Linked DNA regions of Homo sapiens. The protein of the gene in region 7 purifies or fractionates together with the protein of the main gene of each other region. This does not show direct contact. Each region holds a gene or a part of one and is shown on either strand. Other genes may lie near its edges.

The links.
Region 1: the proteins of ARHGAP39 (region 7) and SEPTIN7 purify together in Homo sapiens (affinity purification with mass spectrometry, with the first as the bait; one large-scale study listed by BioGRID). This does not show direct contact.
Region 2: the proteins of ARHGAP39 (region 7) and HMGA2 purify together in Homo sapiens (affinity purification with mass spectrometry, with the first as the bait; one large-scale study listed by BioGRID). This does not show direct contact.
Region 3: the proteins of ARHGAP39 (region 7) and GLUD1 purify together in Homo sapiens (affinity purification with mass spectrometry, with the first as the bait; one large-scale study listed by BioGRID). This does not show direct contact.
Region 4: the proteins of ARHGAP39 (region 7) and NCAM2 purify together in Homo sapiens (affinity purification with mass spectrometry; one large-scale study listed by BioGRID and IntAct). This does not show direct contact.
Region 5: the proteins of ARHGAP39 (region 7) and HMGN4 purify together in Homo sapiens (affinity purification with mass spectrometry; one large-scale study listed by BioGRID and IntAct). This does not show direct contact.
Region 6: the proteins of ARHGAP39 (region 7) and CNKSR2 purify together in Homo sapiens (affinity purification with mass spectrometry; one large-scale study listed by BioGRID and IntAct). This does not show direct contact.

Annotation. Positions count from the first base shown.
Region 1 is NC_000007.14:35,884,557-35,888,056, reverse strand, and holds part of SEPTIN7 (septin-7), read right to left. Parts: intron 2,230-3,500; coding exon 2,178-2,229; intron 1-2,177.
Region 2 is NC_000012.12:65,827,483-65,830,982, reverse strand, and holds part of HMGA2 (high mobility group protein HMGI-C), read right to left. Parts: intron 2,983-3,500; coding exon 2,896-2,982; intron 1-2,895.
Region 3 is NC_000010.11:87,060,344-87,063,843, forward strand, and holds part of GLUD1 (glutamate dehydrogenase 1, mitochondrial isoform a precursor), read right to left. Parts: intron 2,493-3,500; coding exon 2,313-2,492; intron 710-2,312; coding exon 572-709; intron 483-571; coding exon 345-482; intron 1-344. UniProt on the Homo sapiens protein: Mitochondrial glutamate dehydrogenase that catalyzes the conversion of L-glutamate into alpha-ketoglutarate. Plays a key role in glutamine anaplerosis by producing alpha-ketoglutarate, an important intermediate in the tricarboxylic acid cycle.
Region 4 is NC_000021.9:20,997,003-21,001,208, forward strand, and holds the start of NCAM2 (neural cell adhesion molecule 2 isoform 2 precursor), read left to right. Parts: upstream 1-1,406; 5' UTR 1,407-1,561; coding exon 1,562-1,616; intron 1,617-4,206. UniProt on the Homo sapiens protein: May play important roles in selective fasciculation and zone-to-zone projection of the primary olfactory axons.
Region 5 is NC_000006.12:26,541,366-26,544,399, reverse strand, and holds part of HMGN4 (high mobility group nucleosome-binding domain-containing protein 4), read right to left. Parts: intron 1-3,034.
Region 6 is NC_000023.11:21,380,918-21,384,417, reverse strand, and holds part of CNKSR2 (connector enhancer of kinase suppressor of ras 2), read right to left. Parts: intron 1-3,500.
Region 7 is NC_000008.11:144,683,047-144,687,018, forward strand, and holds the start of ARHGAP39 (rho GTPase-activating protein 39), read right to left. Parts: upstream 2,801-3,972; 5' UTR 2,640-2,800; intron 1-2,639.

The DNA.
Region 1 (3,500 bases), on a different chromosome or scaffold from region 7:
TTCCATCGTCTTCCTTGGTTTGCCTGGAGTAAGTTAGTTCTCTTAATTAGCAAGAGAACTTCTTTGAACTTGCCTCTTTCTTAGAAGCAATCACTATTCCTTTGACCTGCAAGATTTCAATTATTTGGGATTTACAGACATCTGTAATATTGGTATTGGTATTTTATTTCCTTCCTTCAAGTATTTATTAAATATCCACTAGATGGCTTTGTCTTAAAGACATGAGCTAAATTAAATACACATCTTTTTAATAATAACTTTAGAATTTTTAGGCATAAAAGTCTTGCTGCTCTGCTGTATTAAATCTTCCTGCAGGCATGGTCAATTTGCTCTGTAATGCTTATACTAGGGAGGTCCCTCACTAGCCGCCAGGCTGTGAACCTTCGAATATTCAAAGTAGCCTCTGGGCTGGGTGGGTGTGGTGGCTCAAGCCCGTAATCCCAGCACTGTGGGAGGCTGAGGCAGGTGGTTTACTTGAGGTCAGGAGTTTGAGACCAGCCTGGCCAACACGGTGAAACCCTGTCTCTACTAAAAATACAAAAATTAGTCAGGTGTAGTGGTGCATGCCTATAATCCCAGCTACTCAGGAAGCTGAGGCAGGAGAATTACTTGAACCTGGGTGGAGGCTGCAGCGAGCCAAGATCGTGCCACTGCACTCCAGCCTGGGCAAGAAAGTGAGACTCCATCTCAACAAAGTAGCCTCTGGCTCAGTAACTAGCTTTCCCCTCTACAGTGTTTTAGGTATGTAGGAAATTATTGATTGTATACTTTTAAAATACACAAGAAAAAGTTATAGAATGCCATTGTGTCAAGCACTAGGCAAGTACCATAGAAGATTTAAAAACAAGAGGAATGCAATGGTAAATTAGTATTTATTAAACATTCTCTACTTATATACTGTCATAGCAGATTATATTATTAATATGTATTCTTTTGAAGTCACACCTTAAGAATGGAAGAGGAAGGGAATGGTTCATAATAGAGCCTGAAGTGTTGTATTCTCAAAACCCAGAAGATGACCTTCTCGTGCTTTTGCTCTTCTCCACTAAGTGAGGCCTGGCAACCTCAACTGCTGAATTAAACCTATCATGTAGTTCCTACCAAGAACACCTGCTCCTTTGAAAATAAAGATCAATTACATGCCATTTATTTAATTTCAAAATTCACTCTCACCTCTATTGTATTTCTTGAGGTAGCAGTTTGACTGTCTTAAATTTTCCCCCTCACTTCTCACCTTGAGAATGACCTCTTGTTATTCCATGATTTCCAACTATTATCCATATTTATGTAACTACCTTTCTTTACACAGCAAAAGAGATTCTTATGTTTTGGGAAAGTGGGTAGAGGTATGAAAATTAATAGATATCAACTAAAGACAGACATCTAAAACTGAAGGTTAAAGAGAGTATGTGGTAAAGGTGTAGAGAAGCAAGAGAGAAAAGTGGGAAATGCGGAGTCAGGTAGGGAGGGGAATGAATGTGTCTCAACATGAAAATACTGAGGATCATTTTGATGCCCTTTCTGTTCCTTGTCTACTAACATCTCTAGTCCTATTACACTTTTTCTTCATGATTTCCTCTCTGCTGCTGCTTTTCTAATTCATTAGTAAGAGATCCTCTTTACAGTCCTGGTCCTCTAATCAGGATGGCCTCGATGTCCTGCTCCCATAGGCTTTCCTTCTCTTTCAGCAGGTGTGTAAGACACAATTTAGGGATTTCTCACCTGGTAGGAATACTGGTTTTATTCACTATGTTCCAGTACATAAAATGTGCCCTACTCACCAGCTACCAGGCTGTGCACCTTTTAACATTCAAATTCTAGCTTTGGACTCAAAAACTAGCCTTCTCTTATATAGTTTTCACAAGGTTTTCACATTAAGAAAAAAGAGCCTCTTCTACTTCACTTTCCATAGTTATTTCAGTATTAAATCTCGACACAAAGTATAATGATAAAGAGACTAATTTTCCTATGTATCCCTAGACAAATTACTTTGCAACTTTTGCTCATGACTTCAAAACCTTGGAGAAAGAATCATCTATATGTAGTGTTTACTTCATGGCTAGACTGAAGATATAAATTTAAATTAGCTACATTTATAGAAGGCAAAAAGTAAATCTGTCCAACTCTTACTTAGGGAAAGAAAATCTTATGCTATTTCCATCATTGCTTGCACTTACCTTATCAACATATTTCTTAGGATTGTAAAATCACAATGTTCACCATTTTCAACTGTAAGAAAAAAGCAGACCGCATATGTTATATTTCCACTAAACCTAGTCTTTTCAAAAAATATTTCACAGGAACTTGGGGTGTAAAAACAAGAAGAGGAAATGCAAAACAGATCAATTTTTTTGAGATTTAACACTAACATAGTACACTCAATGTGAGGGCATGACAGAGAAGTGTACTCTATTATTGCCTTATTGTAGTTTAATCCTCAGAAATAGATATGTAAACCTAACAAATGAACTCTCCAGAAACAACTTTGAAATTCTGAAAGGGGAAATCTTATTATTGGTAAAAAATATATTTATTCTATAATACATTTAAAAAATTCAGTGGTGTGAGTGAAGGGAGAATCACTTTAGAAAAAATCTTAAGGTAACCAAAATGAAAAAGGGAGCCAAGAACTTTCAGGTTCTTTACTTTTATTTTTAAAGAATGTATCACAAATAGGAATATTACTTGGGAGTAGAGGGGTAAACTACAAAAGAGAGATGCAAATCAATTTCTCCGGTGCGTATTTTTAAGGGGTAAGTTCTAAAGCCCCAGCTCAGCAAGTAAAAGTTGCCTGGGCATGATAGAGAGAGCTGGGAACAAGGTACACAGGTCACTGATGGGAAAATTGCCAATAAGGACAGTTACCTGAAACAATATCCTAAAAATTAAAGAATTGTTCAAAATAAACCAGGGGCAGTGGTGTGTGCTTATAGTGACGTGATGTGGGAGGAGCATGATGTGGGAGGATCACTTTGAGCTCAGGATTCTGAGGCCAGTTGGGCAACATAGCAAGACCTTGTCTCTTAAAAAAAAAAACGAAGTTCAAAAATAATAGCAACAAACAGATAAAACAATCAAATCTCAATTTTGGTTTCAGCTTACTATAATACAGAAGATTAAGTATCAGATTAAACCAATACAATAAACCTATTGCCAAGAGGAAGTACTTCTGAGGCTTGGTGTTATAACTAAGATTTTATTGGTATTTAAAACTCCTTACTTAACCCTTAATAATTTAAGATAGCAGGTTAAAAAAGAAAACAAAAAACTCCTTACAAAACTAGTAAAGAGGATCTCTTATTAACGAAATTTTTTTACTCTAAATATGAGATATCAAAAAGGGCAACTTTTGCACTGAGGAAAGAAGACTGTGGATGTTTTAACTGGGCTTACAAATTTCTTCAATCATTCTTGAGGGTCCATGACCATCTGACGTTCCGATAAAAGTGACTGGCCTTCTCTCCAAATGTTTGATTCCAGGTGGTTCATTAGATTCCCTG
Region 2 (3,500 bases), on a different chromosome or scaffold from region 7:
CTCAGATTGGAGTTCTGAGGAATGACTAGAATCATTACACAATGGTCATGCATAGTAATTAGTTTTAATGGAATATTAAGTAGATTGAAGAATAATTATCTTCTCTTCCAAAAGTTCCAAGCATAGGAAATTGTGTTCTTATAAATGTCTTTGTTTTACATATTATATAAATCAATTTTCTACTGAATATGGTTTGAAATTGAAGTGATGGCTAATTTAGTAGTCATTCACTTGGTCTTGCAACATTCTGCATGCATTGTCCAGTTTCACACTGTTAATTTTCAAATCAACAGCTTTGTTTTCAAATGTCCCAAGGCCAATTACTGAATCCAAATATAAACTTTGTAAGTCAAGAAACTCCAAGCAGCAAGAAATTTTAAGTATATAACCATCAGGATTTCAGTGTGCATTGCAGCTCCTCTAATTTTAGGCTTCTTTCTTCTCATATACTTACCAGTCTTTGCAATGTATTTTGCATTGTGATGGGTCTCAGTTTACAGGAAAACACTCACTTTGTTACTCATAGAAGACTTCTCATATCTATTCTGGTCAGTCTCACAGGGTATGTTTATCTTACATGTTATGAACAATATAACTTTTTCTAAAAAGATTTGCATTGCAAAATCCTGACGAACATATATGTTTTGTTAGAACACAATATATGCTTAATAAACAAATGTTTGAAAATCATATTTATATAGAATAGTAACATACTCAACAAATTCTGATTTGAAAGTGAAAATACCTTAAGTTTACACATGCCATGAACGATTCATCAATGTCATTCATTATTTTGCAAGGTATTCTCTTCTCCAGATGAAGCGTAATTTATAAAACTGAAGAAAAATAAGTCATGTTATGGGCAAATGTATTTATTCATTTTTATTACAAGAGGGATTTTTATAACACCATTGTAGGAAATAATTGTGTCTGAAAGAATGAAAGATTCTGGAGAAGGAATCTTTAGAAAAAAGAAAGCCTACTTCTGTTTTGGAAATTGGAATAATGTATGCATACACATGAAGAATTTTCAGAAAGATGAGCGGCGTAGGGGGGTCATTTACAAATGCCTGTCACTAGAGTCACTAAAAATAAATCAACCCTTACTTAGGAATAGATCAACTTTAAAAATTTTGCTTTAGGTGGTAAACTAGGCACTAGCTTCAGCTTCCCTTTTCTCAATACAAATTTTGTTAGTCAGTGGTAAGCTTTTTAAAATGAAGCGGAGGCGATGGGAGCGTTTCTATCTATTCATCCAAAAAACATGAAATATAGTAAAATATGGGAGACAATTCATTTTCCTTTTTAGTATTAAATTTCAAATTACTTATTTATGGTGAAATTTAAAGATTTCTTCCTAGGAGATATTATCATGATGTGTTTTTCAGAGGAATTATACCACAGCTTAAATGCGTGTCAGCTATCTAACAAGATATTCATTTGTGCATCTCCTTAGAATAAAAGTAAATTAGGTAAACTCCACACTTACACAACATAGAAAAACTCCTTGGTAAAATCAGTCCATTTTAGTTAATTTATAAATGAGATAAAATGAAACAAATGTAAAGTATTCATATTAAAAATACCAGATTATATATTGCCATTTTTAAATAACAAGGTTACTTAGAGCTATTTTAAAGTTTATTGATTAAATAAGAAACAATTAAATCTAAACTCTAAGAAGCAATTAAATTTAAATATATTAAAAATATGCTCCTCAACTCTGTTCAAAACTGTTAAAACAGACAAGAACTCAGAGTAACTTCCTAAATAACTTTATATGTACCATTAGTTGCTATGGCAGTTTACATACATTACAGTTAGTACCCACAGTCACAAAGAAAATCACACAAAACATTAATCCCCAAACGATGAGCATATAGTCCTTTCTAACAAATACTGTACATGGAGTACCCAAAACCGGTGAAAAGGTATATCCAAATTTAGTTCTGATTTTTGAAACTTTGTTCTCAATTACTACACAAACCTACAAATACAACGCAGAAACTTTTTTTTCCAATTTATTTATAAAGTCAAAAAAGTGACTGGTACTTCTCTATACATGCATTAACCCTGACATAGTTCCTCTTTGCTAGCTTAAACACAGCCAACCTGAAGTTATCTTAAACTGCAAGTTTAAACTTATTAAGATAAACACTGAATATTACACTTAACTGGGTTCCATTCTGCCCAAAAAGAGATATTAAATGAGCCAAATACTTGTTTTAAAAAGTCTCATTGTCCAATTCAGACATTTCTATGTCACTTGATGAAAAGGCATTTTGAGATTATGATATACTATACTGCAGGTTTATTGTAAAACAAACAGTATACTTTATTATCACAATTAAAGCTGCAAAATTCATGGAATTTTTCCACTATCCCACAACTAGATTTACTTCTAATTATCGTCTATTTGGCAAAGTACTTTAATAGGGGGATTTGGTTTGCAGTAGCCATGTAATAAGCACAAAGTAAATCAATCTTTATCATTTTTCAGAGGAAATTGCAAAAACTTTACCACCAGGCAAAATCTATAGTTTTGATTTGTTTTTAACTATTTACAACTGGTGCAAATATTAATTGTGTCATTTTCATCCCGCCCCCCCCGCAACCCCTTCCTTCCTCACTTCTACCCGTTTTAAGGTTCAAATTATTTGGTGGCTGTTTGTTTAAAAACAACACTGTTAAGTATCTTCATAAACTTTTTATGCTGAGCATCTGCTTACAAAAAAGGTTAACTCGCATCTAACTAATGTTAAATGTAAGAAATGAGTCTTGTGTTACCCAGTTGGGACAAATTCCTGGCTGCGGAGTTAGAATGGGAAAGTTACAGGCAGGCTCCTGTAGTCAGTCATTGATGAAGTTAGGAGAGCTTGACTTGAGAAATCTCACCTTTTGAGCTGCTTTAGAGGGACTCTTGTTTTTGCTGCCTTTGGGTCTTCCCCTGGGTCTCTTAGGAGAGGGCTCACCGGTTGGTTCCTAATTGTGAGGGAAAAAAAAATGCTGTTGTGGCAAGAATGTCTGAAAGAAATTGACCCTGACTCTTTAGCTATATTTTCTGCATGTGCTGCTCAAAAGAGCTGTTGGAACACGTTCAGTTCAAGCATAAATGGATGATGATGGTACAGAGTTTACAGAAAGGGGAAATAACTATACTTTTAATGCAAGGGTTCAAAGAGGAAACTCTATTTTGTATATGAAAACTAGATTCTACTTCAAACCTAAAATGGTAACAAAGACTGAAGAGGCATGTTCTAGAAAGAAAGTCATATACTTTTAAGGTGTAAAGTTTACAGGGCTATGCATTTGGCAACTCATAGGAATAATAGGCATTTTAAACGAACACCACTCTGCATTATACTAGCATTTCAAACAACAGAAATACGAAGCTACCATCACAGATATTTCAACAATCTTCCATATTGAAAAGGTGGCCTTTAATCATCTTTGTATACCTGCCTTCTAGGTGGATTATGATTCAACTGACACATTTTGAG
Region 3 (3,500 bases), on a different chromosome or scaffold from region 7:
AGCACAGTTTCAGTTAAAGTTAAATAGAGGTTATTTTTCTCTGCCAAGTGTATAAAACTACCTTTCACTTTTCTATTTATCTAGGTTTTTTTTTTGTTTGCTTGTTTTTTTTTTTTACAGGAGTGTCAGGCAGATGCGTTTGTTTTGGTAATGGTTGCACAACTCTGTGCCGGTAGCTAAAAGCCATTAAATTATGTACCTTAAATGGGGGAACTGTATGGTATGTGCAGTATGTGCCAATAAAGCTGCTAAAAAGAAAGAGAAAACTCAATCAGACTCTTCTATGACCCCCCTAACGTCATTCACATTGATAATGTTGGTTCTGGTTTCTATAATGTTGTCACCTTGGCTTTGACTCTGGGTGCGTTGGATTTGGTCAACTGCTTCTCACTGGCAGCTGGGATCAGTATGTCACAGTCGGCCTCCAAGATGCTTCCTTCATAGGGCTTTGCCTTGGGGAAGCCCAGAATGGACCCATGTTGCTGCCATTGATTGAAAATCACAATTAATAGCTGCACCAGAGTTTTAAATATTTATATTTAGTGTCTATGCTATAAAAATGTATTAATACCAATTTGAAGTCTTCCAGTTCCTTTGGGTCAATACCATCTGGATTCCATATACTCCCATCAGACTCACCAACAGCAATACATTTAGCACCAAAACGATGTAAATATCTCATAGAGTGTAGGCCCACATTACCAAATCCCTGTGAAGAACAATTACCCATAACACAAAAATTAAAGTCCTGGTATAGACAGCAAGAGTCATATTTTGACCAATGTAAATCCATACTCTGTTTATTTAGAAGCAATTCTCAAAATTCTTTTGCCAAAAGAAACAATGTACTAACTGGTTTCTCTTCAACAATAAAATTCTCTGTTTAAGAATGTGATGAGCGGGCATGGTGGCTCACGCTTGTAATTCCAGCACTTTGGGAGGCTGAGGCAGGTGGATCACTTGAGGTCAGGAGTTCGAGATCAGCCATGGCCAACATGGTGAAACCCCGTCTCTACTAAAAATACAAAAATTAGGCATGGGGTCCGTGCCTGTAATCCCAGCTACTTGGGAGAATGAGGTAGGAGAATCACTTGAACCTGGGAGGTGGAGGTTGCAGTGAGCCGAGACTGCACTCCAGCCTGGGCAATAGGGTGAGACTCCATCTCAATCAATCAATAAATGGCAGTGGTGTTAAGTACACCACCAGGTCCTCAGTCCTTGATGATCAGATGTCCTATGTTGTGAAAAGGGATGTCACTAATTTGGAGAAATACAATTTTTTTTTTTTTTTGAGACCGAGTCTCATTCTCTCACACAGGCTGGAGTGCAATGGCACAATCTTGGCTCACTGCAGCCTCTGCCTCCCGGGTTCAAGTGAGTCTCCTGCCTTAGTCTCCTGAGTAGTTGGGATTACAGGTGCCGCCATCATGCCCAGCTAATTTTTCTTTCTTTTTTTTTGAGACAGAGTCTGGCTCTGTCACCCAGGCTGGAGTGCAGTGGCGCAATCTCGGCTCACTGCAAGCTCCACCTCCCGGGTTCAAGTGATTCTCCTGCGTCAGCCTCCAGAGTAGCTGGGACTACAGGCGTGTACCACCACACCCTGCTAATTTTCCTATTTTTAGCGGAGACCGGGTTTCACCATGTTGGCCAGGATGGTCTTGATCTCTTGACCTCGTGATCTGCCCACCTTGGCCTCCCAAAGTGATGGGATTACAGGCGTGAGCCACCACGCCCGGCTTAATTTTTCTACTTTTAGTAGAGACAGGGTTTCACCATGTTGGCCAGGCTGGTCTCGAACTCCTGGCCTCAAGTGATCCACCCGTCTTGGCCTCCCAAAGTGCTGGGAATACAGGCATGAGCCACTGTGTCCAGCCACCACTTCTATTTTCAAGTAATTTCAACTTAATTAAGATTCTCCTAAGTAAAATACATGTTAACACATGAAACAAATTTGGGTCAGTGTGTAAACCTTTCTATATACTTACAAAACTTAGAAAATTATGTTAAGAGACTTGCCCTTCTAGCTATAATTTCAAGTTTGAATACTAACCAATATTTTGGTTGAATTTGGTGATAGTTTGGTTGAAGTTGGTAACAGTTTCACATGTACTTGAGAGATACTTAAATCAGTTCTAGTTACATGAATCATACCAAGGTTCAAAAAACAAAATATCTATTACTCTGAAAACCACCACTCTAAAATTTAAGAGATTTGAGATAACTTAATTTTAAAATTACAATTCTAAAAACATTGAAAACTTTACTTAATGTCTATCAGTTATTAAGGAAACTTTTTTTGTTTTTGTTTTTACCTGAACAACAAATGTTTTATCTCCAAACCCTGGTGTCATTCCTAAAATGCTCATGTAAGAAGCTTCATTGATGAAATTTTCAATCCCATGGAAGACACCACGGCCAGTAGCAGAGATGCGTCCATGGATTCCCCCTTGGCTGATGGGTTTACCAGTAACACAGGCGTGTGCATTAATATCCTGTAAGAGGGGGTAATTGAAAGAATGAAATGTCAAGTCCAATTTCTCTGTTGAAGGAACATAATGAATTAAAGTCAAAGCACATTCTCATTTAATCAAAAATATGCTAATTAGGAGTGTGTGTATGAATGTATTTAAGGTATACTTTTACCAATAGAGACAAGACTCACTTTTTCAGCTTTCTGTTCCTAGAAAATACAATAAAATATACTATATTTTCTGTTTTTTTTTTTGTTTGTTTGTTTGTTTGTTTTTGAGACGGAGTTTCACTCTTGTTGCTCAGGCTGGAGTGCAATGGTGAGATCTTGGCTCATCGCAACCTCCACCTCCCAGGTTCAAGCGATTCTCCTGCCTCAGCCTCCTGAGTAGCTGGTATTCCAGGCACGTGCCACCACGCCCGGCTAATTTTGTGTTTTTAGTAGAGATGGGGTTTCTCCATGTTGGTCAGGCTGGTCTCAAACTCCTGACCTCAAGTGATCTCCCTGCCTTGGCCTCCCAAAGTGCTAGAATTACAAGCGTGAGCCACCACGCCCGGCAAAGTAGACCATATTTTCTGACAGAAAAAACAAGAGTGTAGGGATTGAACATCAAGTAAGTACAAATAACATCACAAAAGTAGAGCTAGCTCAGCCTAAAGCTATCATTCCTTCAACAAGTATTTAAGCACTACTAAATCAAGGTACATACACATCCCATTCATGAGTGTCTTAAAATCTACTATAAGACTTGAGCATGTCACCAAAACAGAGCCTGAGACAGGAAGAGGCTTTACAATTGTCTTGGATGGGAAGACTCAATGTTGTATTCTGCCACTTTTGAAAAAGGAAGTTTTTAATATAACTTGATACTTAATATAACATGACATTCAAGTTCATCTAAGAGTAGAGTAACGAAAGTATTTAATGAAGTATTTTTAAAAAGGTATGTGTGGGTAAGAGTCCTGTGCTTCTGTGTGAGCAGAGTATCTTTGGTAGCAGTGGTTAGCTCTGCAAAGTGGAGATGGGGGTT
Region 4 (4,206 bases), on a different chromosome or scaffold from region 7:
TGTCCTCACTGATAAGGAAGGAGCTAGGGTCCTTGTGGAGGCCGGGGCGAGGCAGTTGAGTTTTCTAAGGAGCCAGAGAGAAAGTGCAGATGAAAGGACCCATCGTCAGCGTTTGCAGGTCGCGGTAACCCCAGGCCAGATTGACATGGGCTCCGCACCCGGGCCGGTGATTCTGCCTCTTAACCGCTCTTGCAGGAGAGGTGACGTTAATCTCACAAACGTTTTCCTACCCTTCTAGGAGAAATAACGATAAGCCCCAATCTTAAGGAGCAGAGAGTTAGTTCCGGGCGTTTGCCACGGCTCCCTCACTTCAATTTACACTCGCACACGCGGGTACGTGGGTGTTCGGGGTAGGGCACTGATCTGGGGAAGGTCTCCCCCCCGCGACCCAACTCATCTTTGCACATTTGCAGTCCTCCCTCGGTGCACTCCTGGCGGGGATCTGGCCAGTGCAGCGCACTGGGACCGAGGGCAGAGCCCGCGGAGTGAGGCCAGGAGAGACTTCAGGCCTCTAAGGACACAGCTGAGGCTAAGGCTGAGTTGAACGCAGCCCCTCCCGCGGCTCGTCCCCTCTCCAGTGTCTCTCCCGTAAGGTGCCGCTCCCAACAGCAATGGGTCGAGATGTAGAGGAAACACTCTGTACGTTATTTTTCCGCCCACCCTTTAGCGCCTGAGGAGACAGACAGTGTAGACTTTAGGGTACAATTGCTTCCCCTCTGTCGCGGCGGGGTGGGGAGCGTGGGAAGGGGACAGCCGCGCAAGGGGCCAGCCTGCTCCAGGTTTGAGCGAGAGAGGGAGAAGGAGGTCCACGGAGAGACAAGAATCTCCCTCCTCCCACGCCCAAAAGGAATAAGCTGCGGGGCACACCGCCCGCCTCCAGATCCCCCATTCACGTTGAGCCGGGGCGCGCTCGGGGCGGTCGCCTGCAGTATCAGTATCAGCATCAGCATCAGCATCAGCATCTGCATGAGCATCAGCTCAGCTCAGCTCAGCTCAGCATCAGCTCAGCTGTCCTGAGGCAGCCGGCGGCTGTGAAGGAGCTCCAGGCTGCCCCCATCCCCACGCCCTTCTCGGCTCAGGGCGTGCATGAACCTGCGGATGGCCGGCGGGCGAGTGGCGCCTTCGCGATCGCGGCCGCCCCTCTAGGCGGAGGCACCGGGGACCGAACCCGTGACTTCGAGCTCCACTGCGGACGAATCCCGGGACCGCGCGCCTCGCGGAAGAGCGGCCGCCGTGCAGCGCGGAGGGATACGCCTCGGCCGCACCTCCCCTCGCCGCGCCCCCGCCCCCGCCGCCCTCCCCGCCCGGCTCTGCTGCCGCCGCGGCGGCCGCTGCTGCTGCTGCTTCTGCCGCCGCTGCCGCCGCCGCTGCCTGGATATAGTGCGGCAAGAGCGGAGCTTGCAGTCACTTTGCGAGGAGGAGCGCGCGGGCTGCGGGCGGCTGGGGCACCGCGGGAGCGGCGGCGGCGGCTCTAGCAGAGGCGGCCGGGGCAGCGAAAGGTTCTCTCTCCAGGGCTGGACTTAATAACTTTGAAACTGTCCACCGGTGTCACGTCCTGAACATGAGCCTCCTCCTCTCCTTCTACCTGCTGGGGTTGCTTGTCAGTAGCGGGCAAGGTAGGAGTGTGGCGCTTTATTGCATTTACTTTCCCTCCCCCTTCCACCCGGCCAAGAGAGGCAAAGAGGGAGGCGCAGGAAGAATGAAATGAAAGAACTAAAGTTACAGTTATTGCTGTTGTTGTTATTATTATTTTCGTTCTTTCTCCTAGCTGTCCCTAAAATTGTATCTGTTGTGTGGAGACCCTTAAATAAGAGAAGGGAAAATACAGAATTGGAGAGGGGAATCGGTGAGCAGGATATCCAGGGAAACCGCTTCTTCTTCTTCTTTTTTTTTCCTCTGGGATTATGGCTTTCTCTTATTTTTATTATCAGAAATTGGATGAGTGTGTTAACAGTGAAATATCTGAGGTTGCGGAAGGAAAGGGCACGATGGTGTTTTACAGAAGCAGCAAAAACTATCAGTGTTAAACTCATTTGCAAAATATCTGCTGTGTGCAAGACGTTCGATTCTTGGAGACTCTTTTTTTTTTCCACCCCTTTCCCAAAACCCTAATTCCTGACTATGAAGTGAATGATGATGGCTTATTTCTGTTGGAAACTAAGAGAGGGGCCGTGGATATTGTGTGTAAGAAAGCAAATGGATAAAACTAGGGATGTGTTGCAGTCATTCATTTTGACCCCAACCCCTTATTAATACAGAAAGGTGGAATCATTTTATAACATTACATTGTAATTACACCTGTAGAGGATTTTTGGGGTTGTGGGAGAACTGGTGGAAGCTTTTATCTCTTAAAAAAAAAAAATGAATAGCCTGGTAGAATAACCTGAGAGGGAATTTGTGGAAGCTATCACTGTTTGTCTCTAGAGAGATAGATATGAATTTATCTGGCTGTTTAGATAGTAAACACTCACATGAAATATATTTACAATAAATGGAAGCATTTTCAACTGTCCAGACAAGTTTGGACGTTTAATTAGGGACACAAAATGCTAAAACATGCATTGGTGAAAGTCTTTAAAGGAAAAATAAAATAGCACTAATTTTGAGATATGTAATGATTGCAAAGAATGTTATGTTGTTAGTGTAGTGTGAAATTGGTTTTTTAAAATAATATAATAAATTACAAGACAAGTTAAAATATCCCCAAGATATTCAGTTCTAAGCATTTTTAGCCTCTTCTGTATTGCTCGTTTGGTCCAGCAGGGGGTGGTAGAACTCCATTTTAAGCCCAGAAGTTGGTTTCTGCTCTTCCACAGAGTCCTTCTATCATTCTTCAGCAGGGCTTGACATTTTGGATGTGAAGCCTTCCTTTTTCTGCCCTTCTCCTCCCCACAGCTATAGTGTTAGTGGCGGATGAAACACGATTGGATGCAGATTTAATGTTCAGAAATCAGTATGCAAATGTTGGATATTCCTATAGTTTGTAAAGTGTCTTGATAAGATTCTGCTCATTTTCCCTTCCTAACATAGAGTATGAAATATTTCAGTCTTAGCAAAATTGCAGATATGTCCATCTGAAGCTAATACTAGCCCAATTCGTTAATTCAGTGGTTCTTAAGCAAAGATCAGCATGCACATATGTCCTACAGATATGCTTCTTTAATTTTCAGATAGCTGCTGATTGTGTTTAACTGTTCATTTATAGCATAGACAGGTATTTTTGAGCACCAAGAAACAATCCCTGAAAATTGCAGTTAAAATACAACTGCAATTAAATAAGTGTAGGTAGTGTGGGGCAGAATGGGAGCATAATAGGAAACAAGTTTATGCAGACTTAGGATTACATTGTGAGTGGTTTGGAGAAGAAAAATGTCTCAGTTGTGGAATCTGAATTTATCATTGTAGAGGCTAAGTGTGTTGGAATTTGGAGACATAGGAAATTAGAAATGTTTAGATATATAGGTTTAAATAGTACACAGAGACATAAAATTTGGATGTGTACATGTAACATAGATGTGAAATTGTGATTCAGCTAATTTGTAAGTCAGGATACGAGGTGGTTATGAAGAGGCACTCTGAGACAAGCATCTCTGAAGGGGAGCCCATATTCACTGTAATGAAACAGGGTAGAAGGAGACCATCATTGTAAAGATCTCTCTATCTAGTACAATTTCACAATGTGTGGCACTCATAGAGACACAGATATATATCAGAGAGACGTAGCTTTTGTGAAAGGGAACATATAGTACTTCTATGCCATGTGTCCTGATGAAGTCAGAGATGCTTGGATATAGATATCCTCATCCTGGAGTCCAATTCCTCTATGCTAGTGTTTTGTTCTCTAATTAAGGATGCAGCAGCAAGTATCAGACACACCACCGGGAGCTGTTTAAAAAAACAGACCTAGTGTAACTCATGATTTTGTTTATTCTCTTGTAAAGAGGGCCATGGAAAAGCCACCAGTCAGTGATCCCTGGTCTTGCCTTAGAAATACTAAAATCTCAGCTTGCTGATTTATGTGTCCAACAGTATACTTGCAGGGGATTTTATGAAGCATGATTGAAGCTATTGCTTTGGAAAGTGGTGTGCAGTTAGACTGAGGAAAGGCAACAATGATGTATTCCCTTTTTAGGAGTCAAAACGTTTTGAACTGAAGCAGTTGAATAGGAGAAAATGACATTAAGTGAGAAACTGACTAACTTAAGT
Region 5 (3,034 bases), on a different chromosome or scaffold from region 7:
AGGTTCAAAAACGAGGATGAATCTCAAGAATATAATGCCGAAGAAAAATAGCAAGTTGCAGAAGAATATGTACACTATAGATCCATTTACACATGTAAAACTATGACATGTTGAGGCCACAAACATATAGTAAAACTTAAAAAAAAAGGGATAAATAAAAATTGGACAGTGGTCATCTCTTGGGAGTTGGGAAAGGGATGTAGTTGGAGAAGGCATGGAGGTTAGTCCAGAGATGGGGGAGGTTGCATTCTCTTCTTTAAACTGTAGGGGAAGCACATGGCTGGAGTATTACCTATGTCTTACACAGAAAAATTGTATGTGTCTGCTCAAGAATTAATAAAAGTACTAAAAAATGTGGGTAGCCCAGAGCACAGATTGAGAGCCACACAGGTAGGAAATGGAAAATAGTTTGAGTTTGAGTAATTAGGACTTAGGCCTAGGGCTGGCATTCATGGGCACTGTGTGACTTTTTTAAAGCTTTTGTCTATCATACCTTCTGCCCCACCCTTGAAAACATTTACTGGGAAATTCTGTAACCTTGTGAGTGGCCACCATTCTACAATGTTATTATTATTTTTTTAATCTTGTCTCCAAATTGCTCCAGTTTTTTTTTTTTTTTTTTTTTTTTTTTGAGATAGAGTCTCAGAGTCTCGTTCTGTCACCCAGGCTGGAGTGCAGTGGTGCGATCTCGGCTCACTGCAACCTCTGCCTCCCGGGTTCAAGCAATTCTCCTGCCTCAGCCTCCTGGGTAGCTGGGATTACAGGCGCACGCCACCATACCCAGCCAATTTTTGTATTTTTACTAGAGACAGGGTTTCACCGTGTTGGCCAGGCTAGTCTCGAACTCCTGACATCAGGTGATCCACCTGAGAATTGCTTGAACCTGGGAGGCGGAGGTTGCAGTGAGCCGAGATTGTGCCACTGCACTCCAGCCTGGGGGACAGAGTGAGACTCTGCTTCAAAAAAAAAAAAAAAAAAGGTAATGGTGCCACTGAGACATACAGTTCTACTGATCTAACTACACCTGACCTGCTCTCTTCTGAAGAAATCCTTGCCTAGACATTACATGAATTTATTGCTAATTTTTGTCTTTTTCCCTTTATTTCAAATGCAACATTAAGGAATCATTTTAACAATTTTTAGGAAACAAAAGGAGTTACTCTTACAATGAAGGAACCAGTGAAAATCACTTGGTCTAATGGTAGGGTGACTTGATTTATACCTGTTGCCCTAGTATAATTATTCATAATGTTCCCTTTTACTTTGAAAGGTGACCTAACTTGGGCAATGAATAATAAGGTTACCCCAAATATTCTGCATATATTTTTAGAGGCCTTTATGTTATCAGAGAATGAGAGTGTTTAACCAAAAAGTGAGATTTTGGCCTAGCACACATTTCCCTAAGAATAGATACTCCATACCATTCTCCTTCCATCTCACTCCAAAATTGTTTCTCAGCCCATTTCCTGGTGTGAGAATGCTCACACAGTCTCTTTTCCTGGGTTCAGTCTTCTTCGAGTTAGATCCATTGAAGTCCATCCGAAGTAGGGGGGCCATGATCTCCACATGTCAAAGGCCAAAATACAGCAGGTGACAAAATAAAATCAGGAAAAATAGGCCACTGCCTGGATGCTGTATCTGAGTATATAAATACGGATTTAATTCTTGAAACTCACCTTTAGGAAGCTGATTAGGAGACCAGGTCACTGACTCTCTAGAGACCTTACAAATGTGGGAGACAGATACACACATAATGAAAAGGGACCAGAGAGATGGGTAAAAGCTCTTACCATTTCCATAAAGGACAAGGAGGTTGGAAAAGGAAGGAGCTCTCACCACACAGTGGTTTTAACTCAGAAGAAATTATTTGAGGTGGCGCAGAAGAGATTTTTAGGTAAATGAAACTCTTTTGTATGCTACTGTAATGGCATATATTATAAAATGGTAGATGTTATGCACTTGACAAAACCCACAGAACTTCATACAGTGAGTGAACCCTGATGTAAACTATATATTTTAGTTAATAATAAGCTATCAATATTAGTTCATCATTTGTAACAAATGTACCACACCAGTGTAAGTTGTTAATAACTTAGGAGAAACTGAGGTGGGGGAAAGGAAGTATGTGGGAACTCTGTATCTTCTGCTCAATTTTCTGTAAACCAAAAATTGCTCTGAAAAAAGGAAGTCTATTAATGTAAAAAAAAAATACGCATTTTAAGAGTTCAAAAAAATAATGTTAATGATAAAATATAAAAGTCATTACAAATACTCCTTCATGCATGTGGAAGAAAAGAAAAATTATTAACTGGCAGATAAATCTTACTAGTAATTGTACAACTTTTGGAAACATAGAGAAATGACTTTCAATGGTATCATCAGGGCAAGAAATTATCAAGACAGATACTGAAGTTATTTTCCCAAGACATGGCAACAATTTTAAAAGTTTTAGAAATATAACAGTTCCCCTTTGTTAAAATAACTCTTCCAATAACATTATATTACAAACAACAGAGCAAGTTAGTGAAAGTTTTGAATCACTCGTCTTCATTGCACAGAACTGGACTGAAATTCTCATGAAAGCTCTCAATTTAACTCCTCATTTAACCAGATTGCTGTAGGGGAGAAGAAACATCTGCTTCATCCTTCTTCCAATCCTTTTGTTAGCATGAAGACTTGCATTTTTATCATTAGAAGAAGATCATGATGTTTAAATTAACTGGCAAAAATAGCTTTAAAAAAAAAACTAATAGTGAAATAAAAAGCAAAATAGGGTATTATGGGTGGGCCCTAATTCAATATTACTGGTGTACTTATAGGAAGAGGAGATTAGGATACAGACAACATAGAGGAACACATCTAAGGATGTAGTGGGAGGTGGCCATCTGCAAGCCAAGGAGAGGCCTCAGAAGAAACCAAACCTGCCGACATCTTGATCTTGGACTTCTATCCTCCAGAAGTCAAAGAAAATTAATTTTTGTTGTTTAAGTCACTCAGCCTGTGGTACCTTGTTTCGGCAGCCCTAGCGGACTAA
Region 6 (3,500 bases), on a different chromosome or scaffold from region 7:
CAACATCAAACTGAAAGTCTCTGGTCTGACAGCTAGAAGGCAACAGAGCAGGCTTCTGGATAAGGAAGCCTTGTTCCTTTGATTTAATGTAACATTAGTGCCAACAGAGACTGCCACAAAGCTCATCCTGACACCAATATAATAGGAAATGGGGAAAGAGCACCTAGCCCTGCCATATCATGCTAGCTCTATACCACATCAAACTTGGTTTCTACGTAAGTTCCAGCAGGCCAGGAGGAAAACTAGCCACTGGACTACTATATGTCTGTTTTGAGCATCATGAGCAAAATCTCTACACTTTCTCTGTTATATGTATTTAATATCCCAATGGCCTGTTTTGAAAACCAAAATATAAATGATTTTCACAAAATTAAAATATCAATTTTCTGAAAAAATATACAAAATAAGTTCCTATATACACATAAAAAACACACCAAAATTAAAACAAAAATTCAGCCAGTGTTAACATTAATCATTCAGCTGTATTATTTAATGCCAGCATTGTTAAAGGTTTTTACTAATAAATTACATTGCTAAGTATAACTAACAAGTTACTAGAAAATAGATTCTTTTACAATCTTTGGTAAATAAGTTGAAAAAAGGAAAATCTAGGATCTAAGCCAGGCTTCCATCGATTTGTTCTAGCTATTACTTAAGAAAACATGTTGCAAGCCTGTTTTAAAAATAGCAGATGTATCTGGAACAAAATAAAAAGTTCAAACAAACACCAAAAAAAAAAAAAGATATTGAGCAACATTTAAAAACGCAACTAATTTAATGAGGTTTCTTCTTATCTACCACTGTATCTAAAGACCATCCAACCTACTTAATTTCTAAGAACATTAATGCCAAGTAAACACATAAGAGTCATGTATGCTATACTTGATATTAGTTATGTAACAATATTTTTATCATGACAAACTATCATATATTGGTGTCAGTGCAAGTTTTGGTTTACTAAATAAATTTTGATTTTTCAAACAATTTTATGTTGTGGTAAAATAGTCAACAGATGAACAAAGAGAGCTAAAACAGTTATTACTGCACTTTAGTAAAATTTAAAGTTCAATGCATTTATGCAAATAGCAACAAACTCTTTTTTCCTGAAATTGCAAGAGTAAGATAATGAAAACTTCCATTAGAATTAATGATTGTGATTTAAATTAAAATCAAACAATAAATTAAATACATCTTTAAAATTTAAAAATTCCATCTTGTAGAATAGTTGTTTGCAAGTCAAATCAGGGCACAATTGCAATCCATTGTTTTGCAGTACTAGCTAGAGCATTTAAGCCTGATGGTGTTTTATAAAGAGTTAACAAACTGGCATGCCTATTAAGATCTTTACAATTTCACTTACTCTGATTTGTATTTTAATGATTCTAAATTGGGAGGAGGCAGGCTTTATTAGAAAAATTTTGGTAAGTTGCCTACTAGTGATTATCTAGCAGCATGTAATTCATAGAAAATCCACTTGAGGCACCTGTATTTAGCAAACTATGCTTTGCAATAATTCTGTACGTATGTTCTTAACAAGTGCCCTTCAAAAATTAGTAATGATAAACTTACATCTAGTTTTTAAAGTTTTCTTTTTTTCAAAATCAGAGGGAACGGTGAAAAATTACACAAGAAAATGCTGATTTAAGATGCACCTTTAAATACCTTAATTGTATTCCTATTAATAAAAATGCAAATTGAACACTAAATATAATAAATAAGATAATGGTTTCATTAAGCCCAAGGGTTGTTTTTCCATTTTATCGTCCCAATTAACAAATAAAGGATATCCTCACAACAGAATAATGCATTTTAATTTTTTATATGAGCTTTTTGTTTTTATTTTTATGAGGACAAAATTAAGACATCTGATCAATTTCACTCCATCATGCATTCTAAGATATATAGAGTTCTTTAAAAAATACCCAAATGAAGAAACAATTAGAAAATTTGAATGAAGGGAAATAAATGCTTAGGAGAAGGAGTGTGTTTTAATGTTTTAATAAGTATTTGCTTATCATGTTGTCTTACTAAGTGATATTAGTAAGTAATATTTATACTATTTATAATATGGCATAAACACCAAAGTGTTATTAATTTCCTGAAATTATTAATATTTTGTAACAAAATAAGTTTAAACCATGATTCGTATCTTTGAATTGGCTAGAGCACTACAACTATGAGAAATGGATAAAGCAACCCTACTTCTACTGTATTCTGGCACACAATATACAAGTTGGCACTGAAGTATCCATTAGAGCATTATAAGGGACTTTACGTGCATTGTCATTTAGGAAAGCAGATTTGCTGACAGACCAGTAATCTGTGAATAAATTAATTTATTCCTTCTCTCAACAAATATTTTCTAAGTGCCTATTTCATACCAGATACTTTTTTACACACTGGTACAAGAAATAGATGGGGTCCCTGCACTCATCTAGTGGGGGAGTTGGATATCAAATAACCATCCAAATTAATATAAAAATAAAACTGGTGAATGGGACACAGGAGATATACATGGTACTAGGACAGCATATAACTGAGGATTTGATGTGATTTAACAAATCTGGAAAGGCTTTCCTAAGGTGGATGAGAAAAAGCCTAAGACGTGAAGGGTGAGTAAGACTTAACTAGGTGAAGAGGGATAGGGAACATATTAAGTGCAAATGTCCAGTGGTAGGCAAACAGGAAGGACGGTGAGGCAGCCTGCATACTTGGTGCTGGGCATGACGCTTACCTCATAGGCAATGGCCAAACCTTCAAGAGTCTTATAGGCCATGTTAAGGACTTTGACCTTTATCCTAAAAACAATGAGAAGTCATTAAATTGTTTTAAACTGATGAGGGTAAGAAGTGAGAGAATGAGATCGGATGAGATTTATTTTCAAGGAATTCATCCTGACTGCAGGTGTATGGATCAAACAAATAAACAAAATTAAGATGCTACAATTATCATGACCTCGACTGAAAATGGTCATATTTTGTGCCTTGTGGTAATAGGAAAAAAAGGGAAACAGAGTACATTAATTTTACCTTTTTTAAACTCAACCACCACTTCTCCAACTTTTCCACTGATGCATCTGTAATTGCTCAAAAGAGTGTACTCAGCCCTGGGAGGTCTGGAGAATACAGCTTTAAACAGCCTGTTGCAAGCCTAAAATTCCTGTTAAGTCTCTGGTCTCATCTTTGAAATAATGCCAATTTTGCTTTCTACATCATGAATATAATATCCATGTTTGTTTTAATATAATGTTTTAAAAAGCTTAGCAAAAAACAAAAAAAACACAACTCTTTGGCTTCTTTTGATCATTTGGCTTCCACAACCACAAAAATATACCATTTTGAGGAATACAGGCCTATGCTATACATGAAAACTGTGAATTCCCTCACCGAATGTAATTCAACACAATGATTCCACATTGAAGACTATACTTGCTGTTTTTAATCAGACACTAAACAATAAAAAGCCATGAACAATTAAAACTTTTAGACTCAATTTTTTTC
Region 7 (3,972 bases):
GGCTCACACCTGTAATCCCAGCACTTTGGGAGGCCGAGGCGGGCGGATCATGAGGTCAGGAGATCGAGACTATCCTGGCTAACACAGTAAAACCCCGTCTCTACTAAAAATACAAAAAATTAGCCAGGCGTGGTGACAGGAGCCTGTAGTCCCAGCTACTCGGGAGGCTGAGGCAGGAGAATGGCATGAACCCAGGAGGCAGAGCTTGCAGTGAGCCAAGATAGTGCCACTGCACTCTAGCCTGGGCGACAGAGCGAGACTCTGTCTCAAAAATTAAAAATAAAAATAAAATAAAATAAAATATTCTTTTTTTTTTTTTGAGACAGAGTCTCGCTCTGTCACCCAGGCTGGAGTGCAGTGGCACAATCTTGGCTCACTGCAAGCTCCGCCTCCTGGGTTCAAGCGATTCTCTGTCTCAGCCTCCCCAGTAGCTAGGACTACAGGCGTGAGCCACCACACCCAGCTAATTTTTGTATTTTTAGTAGAGACGGGGTTTCACCATGTTGGTTAGGCTGATCTTGAACTCCTGACCTCAAGCGATCTGCTCGCCCCAGCTTCCCAAAGTGCTGGCATTACAGGTGTGAGCCACCGCACCTGGCCATTTTTCTCTAAGAACGTCTTAAAACAATCTTATATAATAATTCATCTAAGTATGTGAGGCTTGTCTCTCTTTTACCTTTATAAACATGTGTTCATCCAAATATGACCTCAGCTTTCTTGTGTGAGAAACCAGCGCCACAGACTTCCAGCTTAATGTAAACTTCCAGTTTACATTACATTGGCAGTGCTGGAGAAACTGAAGACCCACTGACCCAGCACATGCACCCCGGAAGCACCAGATCTTGGCAGTAATAACCATTCCTAACTTTCTAAAACACAGTGTGCCACGAACAAAGTGTTTCACAAGTCTTAATTTACTGAGTCCTCACAACAACCCTATGAGGCCAATATTATTAGTGTTCCCATTTTACAGATGAGAAGCCAAAGGCACAGAGACCTTGCCGAAGACCACAAAGCCAGTAAACAGAAGAGTCGCGACTCAGAGGCGGGCAGCCTGGCTCCAGAACCCGCCCTCCTGTCCACTCTGCTCCCCTGCCTCTCAGGAAGACAGCTGGCTACACCAAGTGCAGGGAGCGAGGCGCCACCCCCATTCATTCACTCCAAGCATTTATGGCTACAGAGCCTGCGCCCAGGGCGGTTTATGGAATGAGTCTCCTCGATTTACAGCCACACCTCCTATCAAATCGCCTTTCCCTCCCCCGGCGCGAGAATCGCACCTTGCTCCTTGTGGATCGGGCGCCGCCGACGGAACCACCTGCTGTCTATAGAGGGCACCTAGGACGCAGCGTCCAATTCCCCTCACTGGCTTCAAAAGACAAATCTCCGTATTGTTGTACCAGGAGGCACGAGAAGCCTCACCACTGTAGGTTTTTCAGCAGAGGTCACTGGAGGTCTGGTTAAACCCGTACAGCACTGAGGGGGAGGGGGCCCGGCTGCGTTTCCGAAGCTGCGCAGCGCCCACAGCAGCTGCTGGTGGGAAGCGGCTCGGAACACACCCACAGCTGCCAAGGAGCCGGCTGCACGTTTTAAAATAAAAAACGTCCTGGGCCCCAAAATGCACAGCCCGCCTCTCTCGCCGCCCTGGGCACGGAACGCCGCCTCCACCCACAGCACTCCAGCAACTGGGAAGCAACCGGGAAGCAACCGAGGGAATTCCAGCTCGGGGGGCAACCGGGAGGGGAAGGCTCCGAGCGCCGGAGCCCCAGCCCGCGCCTGCCGCAGAGGCGAGGCCGCAGAGCCCACCCGCAGGCGGCCATGACCCCACCTGGAGACGCCCATGTCCGCTCCCTGCGCCCCGGGGACAAAGCCCGAGGCTGCACCGCAGCGCACCGCAGCCCTGCACCCGGGCCGCCCTTCAGGACGCGGGCACCAGACCCGACCGGCGGGCATCCACCTTGTCCCCACTCCGACGGCGCCCGGGAATGCGGCCGGTGCCCCGAGCTCAGGCTGGGCACACGTGCACCCACACCCACCACGGGCGGGGTCCCCTCACACCCCCCTCGGGCAGGGGCACACTCACACCCATCTAGGGCCGGGCACACTCACACCTCCCTCGGGCAGGAGCACACTCACACCCCCCTGGGGCCGGACACACCCACACTCCCCTCGGGCCGGGCACACTCATACCCACCGTGGACAGGGGCACACTCACACTCACTCTGGACAGGGGCACACCCACACCCACATTGGGGCCGGGCACACTCACACCCACCTAGGGCAGGGACACAACTCACTCTGGACAGGGTACAGTCACACCCACTTCGGGCCGGGCACACGCGAACTCACCCACCCTCACACTCCCAGCCCGGCCCGTCGGCGCGCACCCGGGCCCCGCGCGGCCTCGGCCCCTCGAGCCTCCGCGCCCCCCGCCCGGCCGGGCCCCGCACACCCACGCCCCCTCCCTCCACGGCCCAGTCACAGCCCCTCCCGCCGCTGCAGTCGCCGCGGGCCTGGATTCCTTGCGCTGCCGGGCCTGGAGCCTCCGCCGAGGCTGGGCCAGGACCACGGGGACCGCAGCGCCGGCCCCTCCGCCATCTTCTTGGCCCGCGCCGCCCACCGCCCGTTGCCCGCGCTCTCACCGGCCGGCTGCGCGCGGGCCGCGCCGCCACAGTCCCTCATCCCGGCCCGCGCGACGCGCGTGAGCCAGCCGCCGCTCCCCGGCCTCTCTGCTGCTCCGCCGCTGCTGCCGCGGCAGCCCGTGCTGTCGGCGTCCTCCGCCGCCGCCGCCGGCCCAGTGCGCGGCGGCCGCGCGTCCTCCCGTCACCAAGCGCAACCCCCCGCCTCCGGCTCCGCCCCCGCGGCGGTCACTACCCGCCGCCAGGGGGCACTGCCTCGCGAGGCCGCATCACGCATGCGCTGGCGCGCGGCATGCCGGGAGCCGGAGTCCCGCGGAGGGCGCGCGCGGCATGCTGGGAGCCGCCTGGCCCCGCCCCGTCGCCGCGCCAGAGGCCTCCCGCGCGGACCTACCCTGTGAGTTAGCGGTGTCTTCCCGTCTCTTTCGGTGCAGAGCAGTTACCATCTGACACGTCTCGGTGTGGTTTGGTGTAATTTTGCCCTCTCAAACCACGTTGGGCTTCCCGAGTCTGAGATTTCACTTTTCTTCGACTCTAGAAATACAGCCATTCTTCTCAAAACGTGGGCTGCCCTGTTCCTCAGTCCTTCTTGTGGCGGGCTCGTGTCTCTTCACCTCCTGTTATTCTCACCTTTTTAGTCCTGTCACTTTTACTCGGTAATTCACTCAGCTGCAGCTCGACTAGTGCTCTATTCGGCGTTTTCTAATCTGCGTTCAGCCTGGTTTTCTAGATTCTCTTAGTGCCAGGTGCGTTTCTGGAAATTGAATCTGACTGGCATTTCTGGAGAAACGGAGGCTAAACAGCCTGAAGCTTCGATAGTAGAAGACAGGGGCGCACACCCTTCAGTCCTGGACATTCCCTGGGTCCTCAACTGTGAGAAGCCGCAAAGGGCTGAAAGGCCCCCGTCAAAAGTCATCCGTGGAGCTCCACCTCCTGCCCTGCAGCTCAGTCGCCTTGCAGGGACTCTCCCGCCTCAGGAGATCTCCCGTCGGGCTGTCTCGCCGCCCGCGCTTCCCTGTTGGGCCGTCGTCACACTTCACTCTTCACTCTTATACACAGGGCTCTGCTTTTTCGCCTCCCGCTCCCTCTCCACTGTATTCACTTAGAAAACCCAACTGGGCGAGCCCAACCCTTCTCCTCCATGACTGCTGAAGAAAATCACACATCCAGGCTGACTGCCTTCACCTTAAACTTGTGACAACACACTGGCGGCGAGCACTTCCCACCCCCGTGACCACACACTGGCGGCGACCATTTCCCACCCCTGTGACCACGCACTGGCGGCGAGCACTTCCCACCCCCGTGACCACACACTGGCGGCGACCATTTCCCACCCCCG